Linked DNA regions of Homo sapiens. The protein of the gene in region 1 interacts with the protein of each later gene in a biochemical or structural test. Each region holds a gene or a part of one and is shown in the gene's direction. Other genes may lie near its edges.

Region 1 (11,620 bases):
ATAAAGAATTACAGATGTGGGAAATAGGAAATGAAGACCAACGAACCAAGTATGTTTGGGGTTGGAGGTACCAAGGAAATTCAGGGTAGAGCATATGAGGGCCCCTCCTATATGGACAGAAGGTGGAAATAGCAAATGGAAATTAGTTGTGTTCGAACAGTCTTAGTTCTATGGGGCCCCAAGAAGGTTTTTTGTGTTTTTTTTTTTTTAAAGTGCATTCTTCCTGTCTTACTTGTATACCCTAGATTTTTTGGCATAGCCTTGAAATAAAACACTCCATTTTTTTCTTACTCATAAGTTCTTTTTTTTTTTTTTTTTTTTTTTGAGACGGAGTCTCAGTCTGTCGCCCAGGCTGGAGTGCAGTGGCGCCATCTCGGCTCACTGCAAGCTCCGCCTCCCGGGTTCACGCCATTGTCCTGCCTCAGCCTCCGGAGTAGCTGGGACTACAGGCGCCTGCCACCACGCCCCGCTAATTTTTTGTATATTTAGTAGAGACGGGGTTTCACCGTGTTAGCCAGGATGGTCTCGAACTCTTGACCTTGTGATCTGCCCGCCTCGGCCTCCCAAAGTGCTGGGATTACAGGCGTGAGCCACCGCGCCCGGCCATTCATAAGTTCTTTACACATTTATCAGAATGAATTTGGACAGTATTTTATGTTTTTAAGAAGGAAAGGATAATGCACATGTTTTTTCTTTTCCGAGAACTTCTACTGAGAGTTAAAGGTTGGAGTGGTGAAGTGATGGTTTAAAAAAAAAAAAAAAGAAAAGAAAAGAGAGAGACAGAGGAAGATTTTAACATTAAAAGAGGAATTTAGGGAATGGCTGATGGTCATGACACGGTCGGCAGAGGAAGTTTTGCTTACTAGCCACACTTAGGCTTCTGAGTAGAGTGGATATTATGTCATTGCTATTATAGCATGTGTTTATTTCACACACTGCTTTTGAAGATTGGGTGGAAACTGTCAGATGTGAGGCATAGCATGAATGAAAGGTAAATAGCATGAGTATTAGAAAGTAGATGAGGAAGTTTAATAATTTTAATGTGCTTCATAAGCTCTCATGGACTTTCACGTATCAATTAGTAAAAGACGTAACTAAGTGATCTGGCTTTCAGTCTCCTAGTTCTCTACAGTGTACCCTCAGTTTTCCACGTGCTTACACATGCCTACATTTGTACTGAGAGAAAAGGAAATAGTTTTTTTTTTTTTTTTGAGACAGTCTTGCTCTGTTGCCCAGGCTGGAGTGCAGTGGCACGATCTCGGCTCACTGCAACCTCCACCTCCTGGATTCAGGTGATTCTCCTGCCTCAGCTTCCCGGGTAGCTAGGATTACAGACATGTGCCCAGCTAATTTTTGTATTTTTAGTAGAGGTGGGGTTTCGCCATGTTGGCCAGGCTGGTCTCAAACTCCTGACCTCAGGTGATCCACTCACCTCGGCCTCCCAGAGTGCTGGGATTAAATAAATAGTTTTATGTGGCTGGGTGTGGTGGCTCACGCCTGTAATCCCAGCACTTTGGGAGGCCGAGGTGGATGGATCACGAGGTCAAGAAATCAAGACCATCCTGGCCAACATGGTGAAACCCCATCTCTACTAAAAATACAAAAAATTAGCTGGGCATGGTGGCGGGCGCCTGTAGTCCCAGCTGCTCAGGAGGTTGAGGCAGGCGAATCACTTGAACCTGGGAGGCGGAGGTTGCAGTGAGCTGAGATTGCACCACTGCACTCCAGCCTGGCGACAGAGCGAGACTCTGTCTCAAAAAAAAAAAAACAAAAAAAAAAGAAAAATATTTTATGTAAGTAGGGATGTGTAAGCTGTAGTGATCAGTCTTTGTTGCAGAATGGTAAATGATGCGTGGATGAGAGAAGTGGGGTGATGGGATATTTCTTCCCTTTAATGCCTTAATTTGCATTTCCAAAGCACCTTTAAGCATCTTTTTATAGAACTCCCATGATCTTCTGATACCTGTCTTCTCGCAGACCCCAGAAAGAGAATACACCAATTTTCGTATCATCTATTCCATTGTTGCCGAATATTTGAGTTGTTTCAAGTTTGGGGCAATTGTGAACAAAGCTGCTATGAGCATTCCTATACCTGTCATCTGGTGCCCATGTGCACAAGTTTCTCTAAGGTATACACCTAGGAATGAAATTGCCGGTTTATAGCTAGGGTGACCATTTGTCCTGGTTTTTGCTTATTTTCCCAGCGTAACTGTAACACTTTTAGTTTTCAAAAGTATCTAGGGTTAGATGATGAATTGTATGGTCACCTAGTCATAAGGTATGCTTGTCTTCATCTTTACTAAGTACCAAACTCTTCTAAAGTATTGTACCAGGTTACACTCCCTCCAGCAATATATGAATTCCCTTGCTTCTCGCCCTCTCCAATCTCAGCCTTTTTAGCTTTTATGATTTTAGCCAATATGGTAAATTTTGCGTTTACCTGATTAGTAATCAGATTGCACAGCTCTTCATATATATATATATATATATATATATATATATATATATTTTTTTTTTTTTTTTTTTTTTTTTTTTTTTTTTTTGAGACGGAGTTTTGCTTTTGTCACCCAGGCTGGAGTGCAGTGGCGTGATCTTGGCTCACTGCAACCTCTGCTTCCTGGGTTCAAGCGATTCTCCTGCCTCAGCCTCCTGAGTAGCTGGGATTACAGGTGCCCACTACCACAACCAGCTAATTTTTTGTATTTTTAGTAGAGATGGGGTTTTGCCATGTTGGGCAGGCTTGTTTCAAACTCCTGATCTCAGTTGACCCGCCCGTCTTGGCCTCCCAAAGTGCTGGGATTACAGGCGTGAGCCTCTGCACCCGGCCAGCTCTTCATATACTTTTTTAGCCATTTAGATAGCCTCATTTATAAAGTTCTGTTCAAGTCTTTCCCACCCTGCTTTTAAAAGTTGGGCCTTGTATCTTTTATTGCTATTTAGAAGTTCTTTATTTACTGTGAATACAAGTCCTTTGTCATGTGTGTGTGTTGCAAATACTGTGGCTTGCCTTTTCACTCTCTTTATGGTGTCTTTTAATGAACAGAAGTTCTTAATTTTAATGGAGTCAAATTTATTGGTCTTTACTTTATGGTTAGTGCCTTTTGTGTCTTGTTTTAAGACTTTTCCTACCCTGAGGTCAATAAGATATTCTCCTATGCAGTACTATCTTTTTAAAGCTTTGTTGACCTTAAACAATGTATAACTATGAGTAAAATACACTCTTCTTGACCCCAGCCTCACCATTACAATCTATTTTTGCTTTCCTTCACTTTTTTCTGTTCTCTGTCTTGAATTTTTACTTCTCTGCAGCTATAACTAAGAGCCAGGTGCTGACTTCTCCTGTCTCTTAGGAGAAAATGGTCATATAGACAGAAGTTCAGCCAGATTAGATTTTACAGGTCTCCAGCTGACTGTATTGCCCTTTTTCCTTTTATGAGCTAGCATTTTATTGTGTTCCTGCTATGTGTCTGCCATCATCCTTGCTGCTTTCATATTTGTTATCTCAGTGATTCCTCTTAACGGTTCTGTAAAACAGAGAAGTATTCTCATTTTTACAGAAGAGAAAACAGAGACTTAGATTGATTTAGTAGCATGTCCAATATCCCCTAGCCTAGGTAGCTAGCAGAATGGGGACTGGATCCCTGACTCTGATACTTCCCATCACAGCACACCTACTTGTTGATTAAAATGTCAGAAACCTGTTTTTTGATAACATCCAAAACCAAAAAGAATAACTTTCTTACTCTTGATGTAACATGCCTTAAGTAAAGCACACAAAGCTAACTATTGTGAAACTGGATAAAATACCTCTCTGTATATAGCCAGTGGACCTTAAGTGGTCCATGGCTGGATGACAGAAGGTCTGTTAACCCTTAAAAATGTATACCAGTGTATATGGGTACATGTGCTTATTTTTTAGAGTAGAGCTATAATATTTATGAAACTCTCAAAAGGGAACCTGAATTTTTCAGGGTATCTGGATATCTGGTCTGAAGACATCTGTAATACAGTTAACAAAGAATCCTGTAATAATCTCTCTTTCAAAAGAATCATAAAAAAGTTAAGATGTCAGATTTTTCTCAGCCAGGTGCAGTGGCTCATGCCTGTAATCCCACTACTTTGGGAGGCTACAGTGAAAGGATCCCTTGAGCCCTGGAGTTCAAGACATGCCTGGGCAACATAGGGAGACCCCCGCCTCTATTTTTATTTATTTATTTAGATTTTTTGGTATCTTCATTTTATCTTATTTATTTTGTTGAGATAGAGTTTTGCTCTTGTTGCCCAGGCTGGAGTGCAATGGCGTAATCTTGGCTCACTGCAACCTCCACCTCCTGGGTTCAAGCAATTTTCCTGCCTCAGCCTCCCAAAGAGCTGGGATTACAGGCATGCGCCACCACGCCTGCTAATTTTTTGTATTTAGTAGAGATGGGGTTTCACCATGTTGGCCGGGCTGGTCTCAAACTCCTGACCTCAGGTGATCCACCTGCCTTGGCCTGTCGAAGTGCTGGGATTATAGGCATAAGCCACCAAGCCTGGCCTTGTATCTCTATTTTAAAAAGTTTTTTAAAAATCACATTTTTTGGCCGGGCATGATGGCTCATGCCTGTAATCCCAGCACTTTGGGAGGCTCAGGCAGCTGGATCACAAGGTCAGGAGCTCGAGACCAGCCTGGCCAACATGGTAAAACCCCGTCTCTACTAAAAATAAAAACAACAACAACAAACAAACAATGGCATGGTGGCATGTGCCTGTAATCCCAGCTACTCAGAAGGCTGGGGCAGGAGAGTCGTTTGAACCCGGGAGGCGGAGGTTGCAGTGAGCCGAGATCACGCCATTGCACTCCAGCCTGGGCAACAGGGCAAGACTCTGTCTCAAAAAAAAAAAAAAAAAAAAAAAAATCACATTTTTTCCCTTAATACATTATTCTCGGTCTTTGTCATCAAAAACCAACTAAAGCTAATTTGTAATTAGGGAGAAATCTAGGATTGAATAGGAATTTTTAAATGCCAAAAAAAGACACTCTAAATTTAGTTGATTATTTCTTAAGTGAAAGTGCTTAGTTATAATACATCATTACTAATCAGTGTACCCTGGCTCCAAAGACCTGATGACTTCAAATGACTTTTCATCTTGTCTCTAAATTCCTCTGTTTTACAAGGGATCAAATTTCCTGTGAGGTTCCTAACAGTGTGATTAAATTTTAGAGACTGAAACTATTGAGCACTTAAATGCAGGGATAACTATGCAAACCTAATTCATGGGTTTCACCAGGAGATTTGGGACCTGTCTCTACTAATTTATGATGATGATGTTGAAACTAATCTTTGCTAGGGATTATGGAAACCATAATAGTTTATTGATGGTTCAGTTATTGTTTGTTGAAGCACATTTACACAATTATAGTTTAATGACATAACAAGGATATTGTCAACTAGGAGAGCATGACATGAAAAATTAAACTTGCAATTAATATAATATGTATTAGTTGAAATGATAATTTTTATGGTGATTTAGCCTCTTAGAAATCCTTGGAAAACATTATTAGCTTATGAATTGAAAACTCTCTTTGTTAATGAGTAGTGGGAAAGAACTTAGTGTTACTCTAAAAAGATGGGGAATTAAATATTCAGTTCAACCAGCGTTTTATTGAGTGCCTGCTCTGGGCTTGCTGCTGAGTTAGGCTCATAAATATAAGTTGAACAAGATTGATGTTTGCAGAGATGAAATACTGGTTGCTTTTGTTTTTTCTTTCAATCACCCTTCCCTCCAGAGTAGATGGCTACTATTGCCAGAGTGATTCAAACATTCAACAGGTTTGTGTGTGTATGTGCATGCCCTTCCCTGTGCATTATGGTGTCACCTGCTCCTGCAGTGGCTTCCTATTCATCTGTCACGTTCACACACCACAGCTTGGCTTTTTTCACAGCCAACTTTATTTCTGTTTTTTTTTTTTTTGAGATGGATTCTGGCTCTGTTGCCAGGCTGGAGTGCAGTGGCGCGATCTCGGCTCACTGCATCCACCACCTCCGGGGTTCAAGCAATTCCCCTGCCTCAGCCTTCCGAGTAGCTGGGACCACAGGCATGCACCACCACGCCTGGCTAATTTTTTGTATTTTAGTAGAGATGGAGTTTCACCATGTTGGCCAGGATGGTCTCAATCTCCTGACCTCGTGATCTGCCCGCCTTGGCCTCCCAAAGTGCTAGGATTACAGGTGTGAGCCACTGTGCCTGGCCTATTTCTGTTTTTCATTTTTAAATTATATTTGTCTTTTTTAGAGACAGAGTCTTGCTCTATTGCCTAGGCTGGAGAGCAGTGGCACAATCATAGCCCACTGTGGCCTCAACCTCCTGGGCGGCTCAAGAGATCCTCTTGCCTCGGTCTCCCGAGTAGCTGGGTCTACAGGTGTACACCACCACAGCCACCTAATTTTTTATTTTTGTAGAGGTAGGGTCTTGTTGTGTTGCCTAGGCTTGTCTCGAGCTCCTGGCCTCAAGTAATCCTCCTTCCTTGACCTCCCAAAGTGCTGGGATTAGAGGCATGAGCCATTGTGCCTGGCCCAACTTAATTTCTTTATCCCTTTTGAGCATATACCTGTTCTAGTCAGGCACATGGACTTGGTGTCCCTTTTGTTTGACAGCTCATTCTTAGCTTCTGTTATTTCACTTTGATTTCCTTCATTCATTCCCCGATACATTTATTTAGCAAATAGGCATTGAAACCCTCTTATGATCAAGTTGTGGTCTTGGGAAATCTTAGGGTATACAAAGATGAATCAAGCATGAATCCTGTTTTTAAGAATTTTATAGTCTAGTAGGGGTGACAAGGTTAATACACAAGTAAGCATAATACTAAGTGGGAAATGAATGTCAAAACAGTAAAAAAGCTAAAAGCTTCCTGTTAGACAAAGATGTTTGGGGCTTTTGAGAAGTTGTTTGCACTGGGCCATGAAGGATTTGAATTTGGGCAGAGGGACGGTGGGGCACTTATCCAGGCTCAGCATTATCTTTCAAGGTTCAGTTTCAGTCCCATCCATCCAAGAGATGTTCATCCATCCTCCACGTGGTTTCAGCAAGGTAGTATAGTCACAGTTGTTTCCAGACTTCTTCCTTCTGTAATCAGAGGAACACTTCCTTTAAAGCGAATCTTATGGGGAAGACAAATATATGTAAAACAGTTAAAGTGGAGCTGCACTGTTGGGTTCAAGGTGCTGCAATGGCCCAAAGTTTAACCCACAAGGGGTACCTGAAGGTAATACCCGAAGTAACTCCTTGTCACAGAGATCTAAAGAGCCTAGTTTGAAAACCTCTGGAGAGACAGAAAGAGTTTGGGCTTTGGCATCTGAATTAAAATCCTTCATGACTTAATGGCTCTGAGATCTTGGCTAAGTCAAGCCTGTTTTCCTTTTGTAAAAACAACAATGCTACCTTACAGAGTTGTTTTAAAGTTTACTGATAATCTATGTAAAGTACCTGGACCACAGTAGGTGTCAGGAAATGGTTGGTATTATTATTATTATTATAGTTTAGTGCTTTGTTATTTCTTTTTTTTTAAACAATTTATTGAGGTGAAACTCACATAACATAAAATGAAAAAACCATTAAAAAGTGAACAAATCAGTGGCATTTAGTACATTCAGTGTTGTGTCACCACTGCCACTATCAAGTTCCAAAACATTTTTATTGATCCCAAATAAAACCCCTTACCCATTAAGCAGTTTCTCTAGATATGTCCCTGAGACTCCACCAATCTGTGTTTTGTCTATGGATTTATCTATTCTGGATGTCTCATATGAATGAAATTATATGATGTGTGGCCTTTTGTGTCTGGCTTCTTTCACAGCATAACGTGTTTGAGGTCCATCTACATTGTAGTAGCATGTATCGAAACTTCATTGCTTTTTATAGTTGTATAGTATTCTAGTGTATGGATATACCACAGTTTATCTGTTCATCTGTTGATGGACATTTGGGCTGTTTACACCTTTTGGCTACTGTGAATAGTTTTGTTATGAACATGGGTGTACGTGTACTTATTTGAGTATCTGTTCTCAATTCTTTTGAGTCTATACCTAGAAATGGAATTACAGAACCATATGGTAATTCTGTGTTTAACTTTTTGAGGAACCGCCAAACAGTGCTTTGCTATTTCTTAATTGCTTCTTATATGTTCTGTCTCTAGCTTTGCTTTGTATTCCCCATAGTACCTACCACAGGGCTGCATGCAGGGAGCATCAGCTCGCTAAATATTTGTTGGTTTTTCTTTGATTAGTATTTATAACCTCACCTCCCAGTTCACATGTTTTGGGCCTGAAGCATTGATTTCAGAGGAAATAGATGCATCCAGGATTTGAAAGATAAGAAATATCACCATATGGATGGCGTTTCATGTTGTCAGACAACAGATATTTGTTAACCAAGGACACTATTTTGAGCAACTCTGCCAATAACCTGAGCTGGGTGCTGATAGAAGAAAAATAAGTCAAGGTCCCTTCCCCTAAACAGTTCTGTTCTGTTTCGGAAGATACTGCTTAGATTTGTGGATGCTCACTCAGTTACACAATGGGCTTTGAAAAAATCCAGGTTTTCCAACAGTGATCCCTTTGGGGAAAAAAAAGAAAGAAAAAGCCAGGACTTATGAAAGTAAAATAGTTAAAAATAACTGTTAGCAAGTAAAACTCAGGATGACAAAAGTGTAAACTCTATTATTAATCTTTGTTTTTTTCTACCACTGTTTTTTGCCTCATCCATAATCTCATGACTTGAGTGTTATGACATTGATTTTGAAACAACACACACAGCTTTAGTAAAAGCTTAGAGGAGGCCTCGCATAATACTTATGATCCAGGATATTTTGACTCTTCTTATGCTGACATGAATATTTCTGAATAGTGTTGATGTTTATGTAATACCAGTGAAGCTAAAAGCTCAGTGCTGGACTAAGCATTTCTCTAGATATGTTTAGAATATTTGTAATGAATGATGTAAATAGTGTTATATTATAAGACCGTATGATACAACCATATAATTTACTGATATTTTGTAGTTAAAAATAAAATGATTCACAACCTTAGAAAATAGAATAATTTAATTTGATGTAGCACAAATCCCCAGAATTAATTTAGGATGATTTGCTACCTTTTTGATAGCCTTTTAGTCCAACCTTCAAGTTTTTATAGAAAAAAAATGAAAAGAGAATAATGATTTTAGGGTTTTCGCTTGTGATAGAATGTCCTATCTACATGTGAAGCAAATCCCCATGCTCTGAAAAAGAGAAATAGTGTGGATAATTCCAAATCAGGAAAAAAAAAATCATTTCTATTTGGCTTTTGAATGAATTATGCATTTTTTTTTCCTGTGGATTTGTCTTTCCAGTTAGATACTGCTTAGGCTAAAATGAAATTGGTTTTCAATCTATTCTCTTGCTTATATGAATTTACAGTGGGGCCAGTGGGATGTTGGAAACAAATCAGCCTAAGATTAAAAAATTTGCGGTGGATAATATACAAAGTGGATAATATACATGTGTTTAGTTGAGAATTGGCTACAGATAAGAGACTTCTGATTTTGTTCCTCTCCTAGCTGTGTATTTTTTTTTTTTTTTTGAACACTGTGATTCTGCTTGTAGCAAAGAGCTGCTGAGTTACATCTGCTTCTGCCTAATTAACTCTGTTGGTTGGTGTCAGATGAGAGCTAATTTTGAGATTAAATCGAGGAGTGGGGTGTGTGTCGTGGCTGGGGGAGGGGAGAAGGAGGATCCAAGGTTGCTTGATTGTTTTACGTAAGATCAAAATGCAGTTATTCACAATTGTTCTTTTAAATTTATTTTTTGCTTTTCAAGTAAAAATAATCACTGCTGTCCTAAAATGTGACTTGTGTCAATACATATTTACTATTATGTAAACTGGTACGTTTTTCTTGTAGGTGAGCTTATTGGTCATATCTGGGTAGTCCATTCAGTACCTAGGTGCCTGGTGGCCTTTGGGACAAACAGCGAATGCTGCCCAGGAATGTGAATGCTGACCTTAAAACAACTTTTGACTGTCTTTTTTTCTGATAAATGTTATATCTGTTTGGCTATTTGAGTAGTAGTGGGTTTTTGTTTTTGTTTTGTTTTTCCATGATGAGATTTTTTCTTAGGAATCTATCACAAACCTGATTTTTAAAATTTGAACAGGTCTGGGCTTAGGGATGAAATTTACTTCTATAGGCACTTGGCTGGGTCCTTGGGGCTTCATTTTCTGTCTCAAGTTTCATATTTATAAGAATCCTTCAGTGGTCTAAAAGAATTATTATATCACCAAATGTAGTATAATAACTCATTGGAGCTGTTTGTCTTGAATGGTTGTGGAGATACACGGATGGTTGCTGAATTTAAGGATGTCCTTATGTCCAAATGAACATTTCCTTTTTTCTTTTGGCAGATTTGCCTGAAGACCTGGATAATCTCCATTTTTGTCATGGACTGTTAAAACGTTTGAAGTTCCAATTCTGGTACTTTCCCTTATTTTATTACATTTTTAAGGTATAAAATGACAATCTTATTGAAATGTGTTGGTAATGGATATAAACAATTGTTTTATGGATATAAATGATTGTGGGTAAAGATTTGTGGGCTGGGTGCAGTGGCTCACGCCTGTAATCCCAGCACTTTGGGAGGCCGAAGTGGGCGGATCACGAGATCAGGAGTTTGAGTCCAGCCTGGCCAACATGGCAAAACCCTGTCTCTACTAAAAATTCAAAAATTAGCTGGGCGTGGTGGTGGGCACCTGTAATCCCAGCTACTTGGGAGGCTGAGGCAGGAGAATTGCTTGAATCTGGGCGGTGGAGATTGCAGTGAGCCGAGATCATGCCATTGCACTCCAGCCTGGGCGACAAGAGCAAGACTCTGTGCCCCCCAAAAAAAAAAAAATGATTGTGGTAAAAGCTTGTCATGAAGGTATATTTTAGGTATCTATTAGTTATGAAACACATTTTTTTTTTTTTTTTGAGATGGAGTTTCGCTCTTGTTGCCGAGGCTGGAGTACAATGGCGCAATCTCGACTCACTGCAACCTCTGCCTCCTGGGTTCAAGCGATTCTCCTGCCTTAGCCTCCTGAGTAGCTGGGATTACAGGCGCATGCCACCATGCTTGGCTAATTTTTTGTATTTTTAGTAGAGACGGGGTTTCACCATGTTGGCCAGGCTGGTCTTGAACTCCTGACCTTGGGTGATCCACCCGCCTTGGCCTCCCAAAGTGCTGGGATTACGGGTGTGAGCCACCACGCCCGGCTATGCATTTTGTTTTAATGTACGTTCGTTTGCTTGTGTAACAAAACACCTAAAAGCAACTTGGCAATATTGGGCACTTTTCCTGTGACCTCTTCTACTTTCTGCAGTTGTATTTTGTGCAATCAAATTAAATTAGTTGTGATTCATCCTGAATAAATGATGAAAGATTAAATAATTACTTGGATACAGTGAAATATCTTCTAATGAAATTTTGCCCGAAACCATTTTACTTGGGAAAGATCAATTTCCTGTTCTAAACTAACTGACAGAGAATGATTCTGTGTTCTATCCTGAAAGTGGTTGCACTGTGAAAGCCAGTGATTTCATTCCTAAACACACTGTGTTCCAAGTC
Region 2 (11,620 bases), on another chromosome or scaffold:
GAAGTAGGCATAATCTTGTCCCTTAATATTTAATTTCAAGTTACTGTTGATACAGATATGTAAATGACTTTAACATTCATCAGCTGATGTGTTATTATAGCAAAATATCTAAACACACTTACAAGATTCTCTTTATGATCTCCAACATGTTCCAACTACAAGGCAAGTTTTCAAAAATTTTTCTTATATCCATTAAAATAAACCTTCTTGCTGTGTACATCTATATTAACTCTGCTTTTAACTTACAACTAATGACTGGAGTTTCCTTTACTCCTCCTACTTCACACATTTTAACTGGATACTACTAGAGGATCAGTCTCAGTTTAGGTCAAACAGAAATAATTAAACCTGAAGGGAGAAAAAATGGTTTCTCTTACAGGGTGAGGAAATGTACTTTGTATTTTACAAAAAAAAATGTAAAATTGCTTTAGTGACTCCCTCAATAGCTGTAAGTGGGCCCCCTCAGTTATAATATATACAATATAATAATCACAGATTAATTTAAAATTTTAATGATGGGTACCAAGTATTACTCTAAAAACTTCTATATTAAGGAAGCAGGACATAAACACAGCTAGACTACATTACAACACATAGCATAATTACAGCTTATACATCGAAAGTTTTGTTACTACTACCCAAGAGATAAAAGGAAAAAGAATAGTTAAAACTACTGTTACACAGAGGGATAACTTGAAACAGGGATAACAGAGATATCAGGGAGGGATAACAGAGGCAGTTAAGTTACTCTTTCACGTTATCACTCTGTTTAACTATTTATTTTAAACACATTTTAAAAACCAGATCAGGAACAACACAAGTTTCAAAAAATTCTTCAGTATTAGAAGTAAAGTTATCATGAAGAATATGTTAAAATTCTCACAAAGAATATATTAAACTGCTTCTTATTCTATCATAACAGGGATCTTATACTTCTGTAACATTCTTAATAACTATTCAAAATTTCCAAAACTTGACAGGATTCTAAGCAAGGCATGGTAGTGAACCTTTTTTTTTTCCAACATTACAACCAGTTCTTCCTCTTTTGAAAAGTGGGCTGCACCTTCCCTCCCCGCCAGCCCCCAAACAGTATCTTGAAGCCTGAATAGAGAACTTAACATCAACCCACTACCTCAGACTAATTACAGGTGAGTAGTGGACATCATGTATATGTTATCACATTGCAAACATTTCCCCATTCTATAATCTATGCAAAGCCTAAAACCTCACTTCAGGCTTTAGATTTTTATATAATGATTATCACCACCACCTAATGAAATGTCTTAAGTATGTGCCCCAATTTTGTAAAATAGTTAAAAAGAAAGTTTAGGATTTTCCTAGGTGAGGTACAAAGCACACATTAACAACTGCTTCACCTCAAATACAATGAGTGGTGTGTGTGTGTGTGTGTGTGTGCGCGCGCGCGCGCACATGCTAGAGAAAGAGTATGTCTGTGTCCTTGATCTCTCAGCATACTTCACTTTGAGTTAATCAAAAATTTTCAATCTGTACTACTCAAAATCTGTCCATCATTTATCATAAATATAGCTTGCTGAAAATCACAGATGTGACTCATAGAGTATCTTAAAATTAATGACTCATGAAAATATATCAGCTGACTGATTATCTACATAAAATCTTTGTAACTGCTTGAACATGATGTGTGAACACTGATTTCCAAAACAGCAATTGTGGTCCATATCAATAATATATTTATAGTTTCAAGATTCAGTAGTGACAAAGTTTTATAGCTTCTTTTTAAAATACAGAGCTAAATTCCAAAACTAGGGAGCAGAATTACAAAGTTAAGAACAAACACAGAAAATCACTCTAACACATATCAAAAGCTAAAAATGTCAAAGTAATTCCCAAAGACTCATATAAATTATTTTAAATTATAATAATCCTAATTTTACATTACAAACTGTTAAAGATTTTTAGTTTTTATTTTTAAAAAATGTTTTGAAATCTAAAACACTGAAAAGAAATTGTGGAAAAAGATCTGGCTGGTCTGTCTGACTCTCCTGATCAATCCGTCTCTATATCACAAGGCATGAAATATACATGATTACATTATGATATATTTTAGTTATCTTAAAAGAACAAAATATTAATTTATTCAATTACTCTCTTCCAGCTAACAACTGATAGTTTGACTTGTTTAAATCAGTCATGCTAAAGTTAAATTCGGTAAGATAGAAATGTTCCAGTTTGTTAAAAGAACACTGAAATATTTGATGGTTAAATAAACTGCAGGGGCGGGGGGAGCTAACTCATTGAAGGCACTAAGATTTTATCAAACACACAGAATTAATATTTATTGAATAGAACCATTCACAAATCAAAACTCACTGTACTCCAATACTTTAAAGCAGCGCTAATCAATTACAAACCTTTTCTAGTGCTTCAAAATTCATGTGCTTTCAATTTTACACACTGGTGGTCCTCAAGTACTGTACTGAGGCTGAGTTAAGACATTCTGTATCACAACTTTTTTTTTCAACAAATATTCATCTAGAGGGCTTTCCCCCTCCCCCCGATTCAAGAGCTGCTCACATGAAAACTGTGGTAATATTTTTATACTGTACTTCTTTGTTGAAGCAAAAGGTTAGGGGTTACCTAAATACCTCAACTGTATATATATATTTAAAAAAAAGGAAAAGGTAAGTATTCATAGAAAAAAATCCAATGGGACTATATTATTTATTTTTGCATTTCTCATGATTAATGATGCACCCGTGCATACTTGAAAATTGACGGCAAAACAGGGTAACATCTCAAATCCCTCTCCAAAGCATACAAATACCAATCTTCCATACTGTTCTAACCTTTGTTCTAGGATACTAAGATATGACAACTCTAAGTCAATAGTGAAGTCATGCAAAAGCTCATTAAATGCATTAAAACTGCAAATACTATTACCTAACAAAAATCTTTAGACATTTTATATGAAGGATTCACCGAAACAGTCTACCTCTATAGCATCTATTAAAAATATATAAAAACATGTGACCAAATAGACAAATGCCATCAACTCAATGTGAAAAAAATCCTTCCTGCAAATACTAAAATTGTAATTATGGCAAAGCATAACTATTTTTTCTAGTCACTCACAAGTCAGACATTACTAATCAGGTGCTAGCAGATCCAATGGTAATTTAAGCAGAGACTTCTCAATACGTTACCTTAATGTACTATTTTTTCTCCTATACCAATGAACGCTGCAACTTCCACTGAAGATAGATAAAATTCTGCCTCTCCTCACCCCCCAAAAAATCATAAAACTCCCATAATAAAGATAACAATGAACTCCAATACTTGGTATTTTCTAAATAATAAAATATTCTAAGCTAACTGTCTAAAGCATGTGAAAATTCTTCATCAAATCTGAGATGTTAGTATCTTAAAACAAATCTTTAAAAGAAGTCTCACATAATGAAATTTTATGCCTTAATATAATCTCTTGCCATTTCAAAAAGATTATGAAATTCACTGGATATATTTTTTGATTAATGTGTTACGATTCAAAAAATAACAGGGAAATTCTATACCTTATTAAAAGGGAGTTTCCTTACATTTTTAACCACAGTCAACCACAAGCTTTTGTCCATTCAACAGCACATACACATGAAACAGACCATACATTCCCATACAACTGTTTTAAGACCTGTATAGCAATTCAGATTAAATGCTCTTTTACTGTATACAGTATCTTCACTTTATGTAGAATTCTTAGGAATTTCCTCCCCTTTATACTATTTATTAAGGGCATAGGACTCAAGATTTGGAACAGTGTTGAGTGGATGTAAGCAACATGTTATCAAACACTTTAGGTTTTGTTGTTACTGCTGAATAGAAAGAAGCCTAACTAAAGCAAAGTTTTTCATAAACACTAATAAACAGAAACTGCATCATTTAACATGATATAAAAAACAATCATTTTTTATATCATTTAACCTGATATAAAAAACAATCCCCAAATAAGATGAGCTGTAGAATTAAAACAGGCCTTTAAAGGCTAGTTGCTACATAAGTACTTAATACATGAAGAGAAAAAAATTGTTATTCATGCACTTCCTCTACTCTATATTCTTGTTAATACTCATAAATCCAATATACACCCAAGGAACAAAAATCATACCAAGGGTGACTTGAGCTCTAAATAAAAGATAAATGTTTACCTTGATTAGATGATTTTCATCTTTTAAATCAACTGCCCACAAAACAAGGAAATCTCTGACATATATACATACGCAATTTCGATAATGTTTGAGATATTTAAAAATTATCATACTGATGTTAGAAAATTTACCAAGTTAACATTATTCCCAGAAATATATCTAAGATTATTTTGGCAAACAGTTTAAAGACTCTTTTATCTCTACTATTCCTATTGCCAATTCTCTTAATTATACATTAGTTACATCAGATTAGTGACATTTCTAAAAAGGTATATCTAAATATCCTATGTAAGGCAAATAATTTTCACCACAAAGTCAAATAAGGTAATTTTATTTTACATTTCAGTTACATCGATTTTTTACATCAATGATGTCTACCAGAATCATTATATACCATCAACTATAAACATATATTTACATAATAGACTAAGTTAAAACTCAAGAACTTAAATACACATTTGTAGGTTCCCCTAAATTACATGAACCATACCATTATTTACATATTCCTTATAGTCATGTATCTTACACCTACATCTATTTTGTGCTTCAGGAAAAGCAAAAAAAAAAAAAAAAAAAAGACAAAGTTAAATGCTAGCCAAATCACAATAACAATCATCAATAAGGTTTGAATACATATATATGCAGTCTTTCTTTAGAAATATCAGAATAATAACGTGATATTCCACAGAACTTCACATGAACACGATGTATTTTTACACCGAAACAAAATACGTGTCATATATGTTCAACTTAAATTTCTTCTGGCTATGTTTGTCTTAACATTTTTATACATGGCATATACACATGCATGAGTGTGAATGCATTCACACCAATGACTACAGAACTTGTAATAATGATTATAAACCAGGAAAAAAATTGTAAATTATGTAACTGAGGTACTATAGTTCTGTCATGAAATATAATCAAAATTTTTTTGCATGTAAGTTAACAAATGTCAATCTATAAAACCAGTAACAGGGATTAGGCATCTACTAGGAATTTCAAGACTAAAATAATCAATCTTATAAAATCCAAAGATGTTATTTTCCAGTTATAAACTTAAGTAACAATAATTAAAAACTGATATCAGTTAAACAAAGTATTAGAGTTTATAAGGGCAAATATGAATGGAATTAATTTGCTAATAGATTCCTATTTATAAATATTATCTCAAAGAACAACTCTGGCTTGAAGCTAAACAGGTATATTTTCTCATTGACCATGTAACCTGGGTAAACAATTTAAGCATTGAATTTCTAATTTTTCTATGATAATTGCTAGAATTAACTTTCTTTTTAAATTTCTGTACTGAACTTCCCAGTTTAAGACTTCAAATTCCCAATATAATTTTAAGTGAAAAGATATAATTTTACTAAATGATTACAAATTATTTAAATGTATCTAAACAATGTGAATTTACTTTGAAGCTTAAAAGAAAGGATCATGACATTTATTTTACTATGTAATATGGTATTACATTTTACAACATGTCAACCTACTGCTGTATCACTATAACGATCCTAGAAAATCCATGTGTATCAAAAAGGTACACAGTATGGATTCTCTTCAATCAATTACAATTTTATTATAAGATACTTTAATGCAAACACAGCTCATTAAAATACATTTTTTTAGATAAAAGTAAATTCTCATTTTATTTCATAAACTGTCAGATTACAGATATCTGTAACAACTGTACAGGATCACAGAAAGGAAACTTCTTTATGCTAACAATCCACATTATATCAATCACTGTGTTTTCCATAAAGCTGATACCTGTGAAAGTACATAAGCATTTCATACTAAGAACCTAACACCCAATTCAAAAATATTAAGACACCATGAAGTAATCTATGAGAAAACTCCCATCAAGACAACAGCATCTTAACATTAGGCAGGATAAATGGTTACAAAAGATAATCTAATAAGATTAATTTTTTTACCTCTCATGAAATCTGTAAAGCATTTCGGTAATTCAGCTTTTGACAAAATGCAGAAAAACTTGCTACTGCTCTTATAAGAGTCAATGCAAAAATGAAATATTTAAGAAGATAATGCCTATGGAGATACTACTTACAAAGACAATGTGCTACAGTGTATTTCTAAAGAAATGGAAATATACAAGTCAATGTACTCCAACTTTTGATCATTAATCCAACCTCCTTTCCACAGAAGAAACTCCTTTTCACATATTATAAACTCCAGTGTCCACCCAGAATTCTTCTATTCTCCCAGTTTTCAAAACCAAACACATATACATTATTTCTCTCTCTGTAATTTAGAAGGAAAACTTAACATTTTAAAAACTTTTTACCACTAGTAACCACTTCATTTTAAAAGTGTTAGCTAGATAAGGACAATGAGTACTGTCACGAAAGCTTTATTCTTGATTATGTAGTAAAGATTTAACAATATCCCTCCCTTATAACACGCATAAGCATATTGCAGAATATTTTTGTACACCAATAGGACTAGAGAAAACACATAAAGTGATCTGTTTTTAACATTATCACTCACAAGTACCCAGGAAGAAAATTTAGAGCCATGTGCTGATTATTAGGCTTATTTTTATTTTCATAAATATTCTGGTCCTATCAAGACACAAGACACACTAAAATCAGAATCTATCAAGATACACTTAAATATTTTTTAAAACATCAAAATACTTGGCTTAAATTGCTAAATTATTTAATTATTAAATGGTTAAACCACTCTATATATGTACAATAAATTTTTACTCAGACGTATTCAAACAATTTTCTTGACTATAAAATTAAATCCTGTGCTCCAAGAAATACTGTAACACAGTATTTTTAATAAAGTATTTACTTACAAAGTAAATACATATTAGATGTACAAAAAGATAGGAAGTGATTTTCTATAATATAACTTCATTAATAATACATGTAACTCAAATTTTCTACCTCTGTTTTAAACTTTCTTCATTCAAATACATGGTCAATTCACTTAATTTTTTTGATCCAGAAACATCTTAAATGCTGTTTTAAAGGAAACTTTAATAAAAATGGCCTTACTCATTATTATAAACTGGCATAAAAATATTTTTTGAAACTTGCTGTGAAAACAGTGTGATCTGAAAACTTACATACTTAAAACTTATGACATGAACACAAAAAATGCAAGCAAATGCATAAAACTACATAGCAACAATAATATAGTGAGAAGCCAACCCCGAACATAGGAGATATACATATGCTTTCTAAAATAAAAGCTCAAATTAAAGCTTGCCTTTTGAACTGCCCATATGAACAGAACAACATGCCAATGACTTACAGAATTTTTTTCTAAACTGGCAAGACTAAAAAGAATCACATCCAATCCCTATTTTGCAATTATAATGTGTGATACTTTCTTTAACCATAAGACTGTCATTTATTCTAAATTTGCTGGAAAAGCTTGCCATTGCATTTTTCCTGTACGTACCTCTTCCTTATCAATTATGGTGTATCTCCAGCATTCGAAGAAAAAAAAGCTCCAAAACTTTAACTGCATTTAAAATATATAATTAAATCAATATATACAAGGGTTACTCTAAAAATACTCATTTCTAGAAGGCCAGAAAATCTTATTTTTTTAAGCTGATGCATCTACACATAGAAAGCAACTTTTAGTAAGTTCTTTTGCTACGCCATAATGATCTGCTCCAGAAACTCAAGGGTACCTAAAACAACGGACTACCTGTTCTAGCCATGCTTAGGAATGTGTCCAAATCATTTTTATTGATTTAACCTTTATAGGAATGCTACATATCCTCAGAGCAAAACATTTTGAATGTATTTATAATATGATACACTTCTAGAAGCCATGAAAAAGAAAGCTAAAAACAAATCTAAGACGCCCCTCCACTGTTGGTTGTTATGTTTATTTTTGTTTATTTGAAACAAATATTAAATACATATTAAATAATTCTTTTTGCGAAAACTCACTTTGGTACTACTGTAAGTAGAAATAAGATTTTATTTTTTTAGAGAAAAAGTATATTTAAGTAAATTCTAACTTTAAGAAACAAAACTCCTGACTTGACAATGATGTTATCACCTATAAATTTTAAAGGATTCTAAATGCTTCTTTCATACTCTAATTACACATTAATCATGGAACCTATAAACAAATCAAACTTAAACTTACAGAATTTAGTCTTTATTGAATAAACTTAAGTTGTACTCTAGTTTTCATCCTCAGAGTTTACAGATAAAGTTCTGTGTAGCCTATCTTTCTAGCTTTCTGTAAGTTGTACTTTACAAATGGTTTCAACAGCTAATGCCTGTATTAGGTATGTTTGCCAAATAATTCACAATATTATGCTTCCTCACATTATGGTTCAGCATTTGCTAACTTAAACATCACCTCTAAAGAAGTTATACTTTCACTGCAGATTGTTCTCTCAAAAAAGGCAAACAACTTTTGAGCATTTCCAGATGTAGCTCTCATAAAAAAAAAAAATTATAGGCAACTTCTCAAGAAATTCTAAAATCAGTAATAAAAATACAATAAAACTGGTATCATTTCTGATTACTTCAAATGATCACATATAAGCTTATATAAAAAGCTGATGGTACTATATTTTGAATTAAGAAACTTTGACAGCTACAAGAGCACTGATTTCAGGTAGCTGCCAGTAGGTAAAACAACCAAGTGTATTTCAGTGTCAAACAAGATTCTGCTGAACTGGAATTTAGGAAGCTCTGAGGGTTACTGACCATGTGATAAAAATAATAATACTATCTTTCTCAAATAGTTAATTTATTTTTATACTGGGCAATATAAATTTGGGTTCAGCTATACTATTTCGTTTTGTCATCAATTTTTTTATAAAACATCCAAGTATGCATGAGATTATGCTAAACTAAAATAAAAATAATTTATATGCAGCCTATTTCTCTGGATGAGACAAGGGAGGCATCCAGGGCACAAAATTTAAGGAGGTACTCACTCTTGCACAGTCCTCAAAGAGACAGCCTCCTTAAATTTTGTGCCCTAGGCACTTTGCTTGCCTCATACAAATTCTAGTCCTGAGCTGAAGACACATAAGTATAAACTATTTACACTCATGTGAGTATAAAATGACATGTAATAAGCAGGGTGACATAAAACATAGAAATAAGGTAATATAAGAAGAAAAATTAAAAATAAGAATATTTACATTAAAGAAGACATACTTGCCATAAATATCTTGCAAACTAAGATAGTTATGGCCTTATTGCTTGACTATAAGGCTAAGTAATCTTATTACTTGACTATAAGGCTTTAAGAAAAAAGGGATTGAAAGAGTATTCCATTAAAGAATTCACTAGCCTATACAAGACTTCTTATGTTACAGTGGTATCCAAATCTGGCTGATCAACAGAATTACCTGGGGAGTAAGTCTTGGGGAAGAGCAGCTTGTGGAGAGAAAGCCTTCAGAACTTTTTTAAAACAAAACTCCCTAGATAAATTAGCCAAGATTGTGAGCCAATAGATAGCCAACTTTTAATACTCCTAGAAATAAGCTAAAGACAAAATGCATATCCAAAATATATTAATTCCAAATTGTGTCCCCAATAAACATTTGTAAAGCTTGTTCACAAGAAAAAATTAGTTCCTTTCTTTCCTTCCTTTTCTTCCAATAGAGGTGATAGTCAATGGTTATGTGTTTAACCAGTAATATTAATAAGAAAAATAAAGTTGTGTTTAACAAGCTATATTAATAAGGAAAATAAGAAGTACAGAGGATTCCATAAGATGACTATAGCCAAAAACATTAATATTCTTATTTTTCTATTAGGTTCAAATAGCTATTCTAAGTACATAATCAATCTAATCCAAAACTTTATTTTAAATGTTGTTTTAAATTATTTAAAATTTATTAAAGTTTTAATTTAATTAGACAACATATTTTGAAAAATCAATGTAACTAACATAGTCTATAATTTTTATAGAGTATACCTTAATTGAAACTGTACTTTGTTAGCTTTCATTGTCGAGCGTTTACTGTACCGGGTACTATGCTAAGCCATTTATAAACATTATTTCCTTTAATTCTTACAACTCCCTTATATGAGACATGTATCATAATTATTTACAGATGAGGAAGCTGAGAATGAGGTAAAGGAACTTGCTCAAGGTTACAGAGTTGAAGAGATGGGATTCCAACCCAAGCCTTTTAACTCTTAATTACCACTTTACAGTGTTATACATGATCTAAATGAAGTTACTTCCTAGTCCTCAATCAATTTCATCTGTAAAGGTGTTAGTTCTCAGAAACATAATTATTCTAAAGTTATTAAACCAATAAAATACAAACAAGAAGATAATCCTGGAGTCTTCAAATTACCCTGCCACATATCTTTAAGAAATACTAATCTGACAGAACCAAAGAGATTAAGAAAAAATAAAAGTATATCAAGGAATAAGATTAAGGTGAGGTTTGTTAAGCCCCCTTCCCCCTCAAGACAAGGTCTCACTCTGTCACCCAGGCTAGAGTGCACTGGCATGATCACAGCTCACTGCAACTTTGACCTCCTGAGCTCAAGGGATCTTCCCGACTCAGCATCCCAGGTAGCTTGGACTACAGGCACGCACCACCACGCCCAGATAATTTTGTAATTTTTTGTAGAGACAGGTTTTTGCCATGTTGCCCAGGCTGGTCTCGAACTACTGGGCTCAAGCGATCCTCCCACCTCAGTCTCCCAAAGTGCTGAGATTATAAGCATAAGCCACCGCACCTGGCCTTTAGGTCGAGTTTGATCAGAAAAAAAAAGTTTCAAGGAATTAGATAATTCTTAATCATTATAATTAATAGTCTTAATGTCCACAATACACATATATACTCTATGTGATATAAAAATATAATTTAGGGGTAAAAAATTAAACACTTAAACACCAAGAATGTCTAATCCTCATTTATAAAATTAAAATAATCTTGTATCATAAATATGATTATAATCATAGGCTTTGGTGTCAGATCTGGAATCAAATCCTACTTCCTATATTTATCTGTAGCATTCCTTATACTATGGTCTCATAGCCCCATTTACAAAGACCTATACCCCTACACATATGCTAAGTGATCCAGACAACCTTTATTTCTAAGCTTTAACTTCTAATTATAATTTCTTAAATTCTAATTCATTTGATATTCACAAAAATCCACTAGTAAGTGTACTTTTTCCTGTGCCTACCAAAAAAATACTGCACAAGATTCTAAGAAGTAAATCCTTGACATGTACTATTCACCCCAATTTTAACCACAATTATCCACATTATTACTCAAAACAAAAAGTTCTCAAACAAGCCACAAAAGTGCTCCGCTTTTTTCTCTGGCAGAGGGTAGGAATAAAGCTATGAGATTATATTTTTCAGTCTATATGGTTTTGAGAAAAAATGCTGATTAGAAACCATAGGTTATGATATGATACATGAGATATTTTGCAAAGATA

The links.
Region 2: the proteins of KAT6B (region 1) and RUNX2 form a complex in vitro, tested with the Homo sapiens proteins (one study listed by BioGRID).

What each region holds. Positions count from the first base shown.
Region 1 is NC_000010.11:74,828,262-74,839,881, forward strand, and holds part of KAT6B (histone acetyltransferase KAT6B), read left to right. Parts: intron 1-10,421; 5' UTR 10,422-10,491; exon of another isoform or gene 10,492-10,522; intron 10,523-11,620. UniProt on the Homo sapiens protein: Histone acetyltransferase which may be involved in both positive and negative regulation of transcription. Required for RUNX2-dependent transcriptional activation. May be involved in cerebral cortex development.
Region 2 is NC_000006.12:45,329,712-45,341,331, forward strand, and holds part of RUNX2 (runt-related transcription factor 2), read left to right. Parts: intron 1-11,620. UniProt on the Homo sapiens protein: Transcription factor involved in osteoblastic differentiation and skeletal morphogenesis. Essential for the maturation of osteoblasts and both intramembranous and endochondral ossification.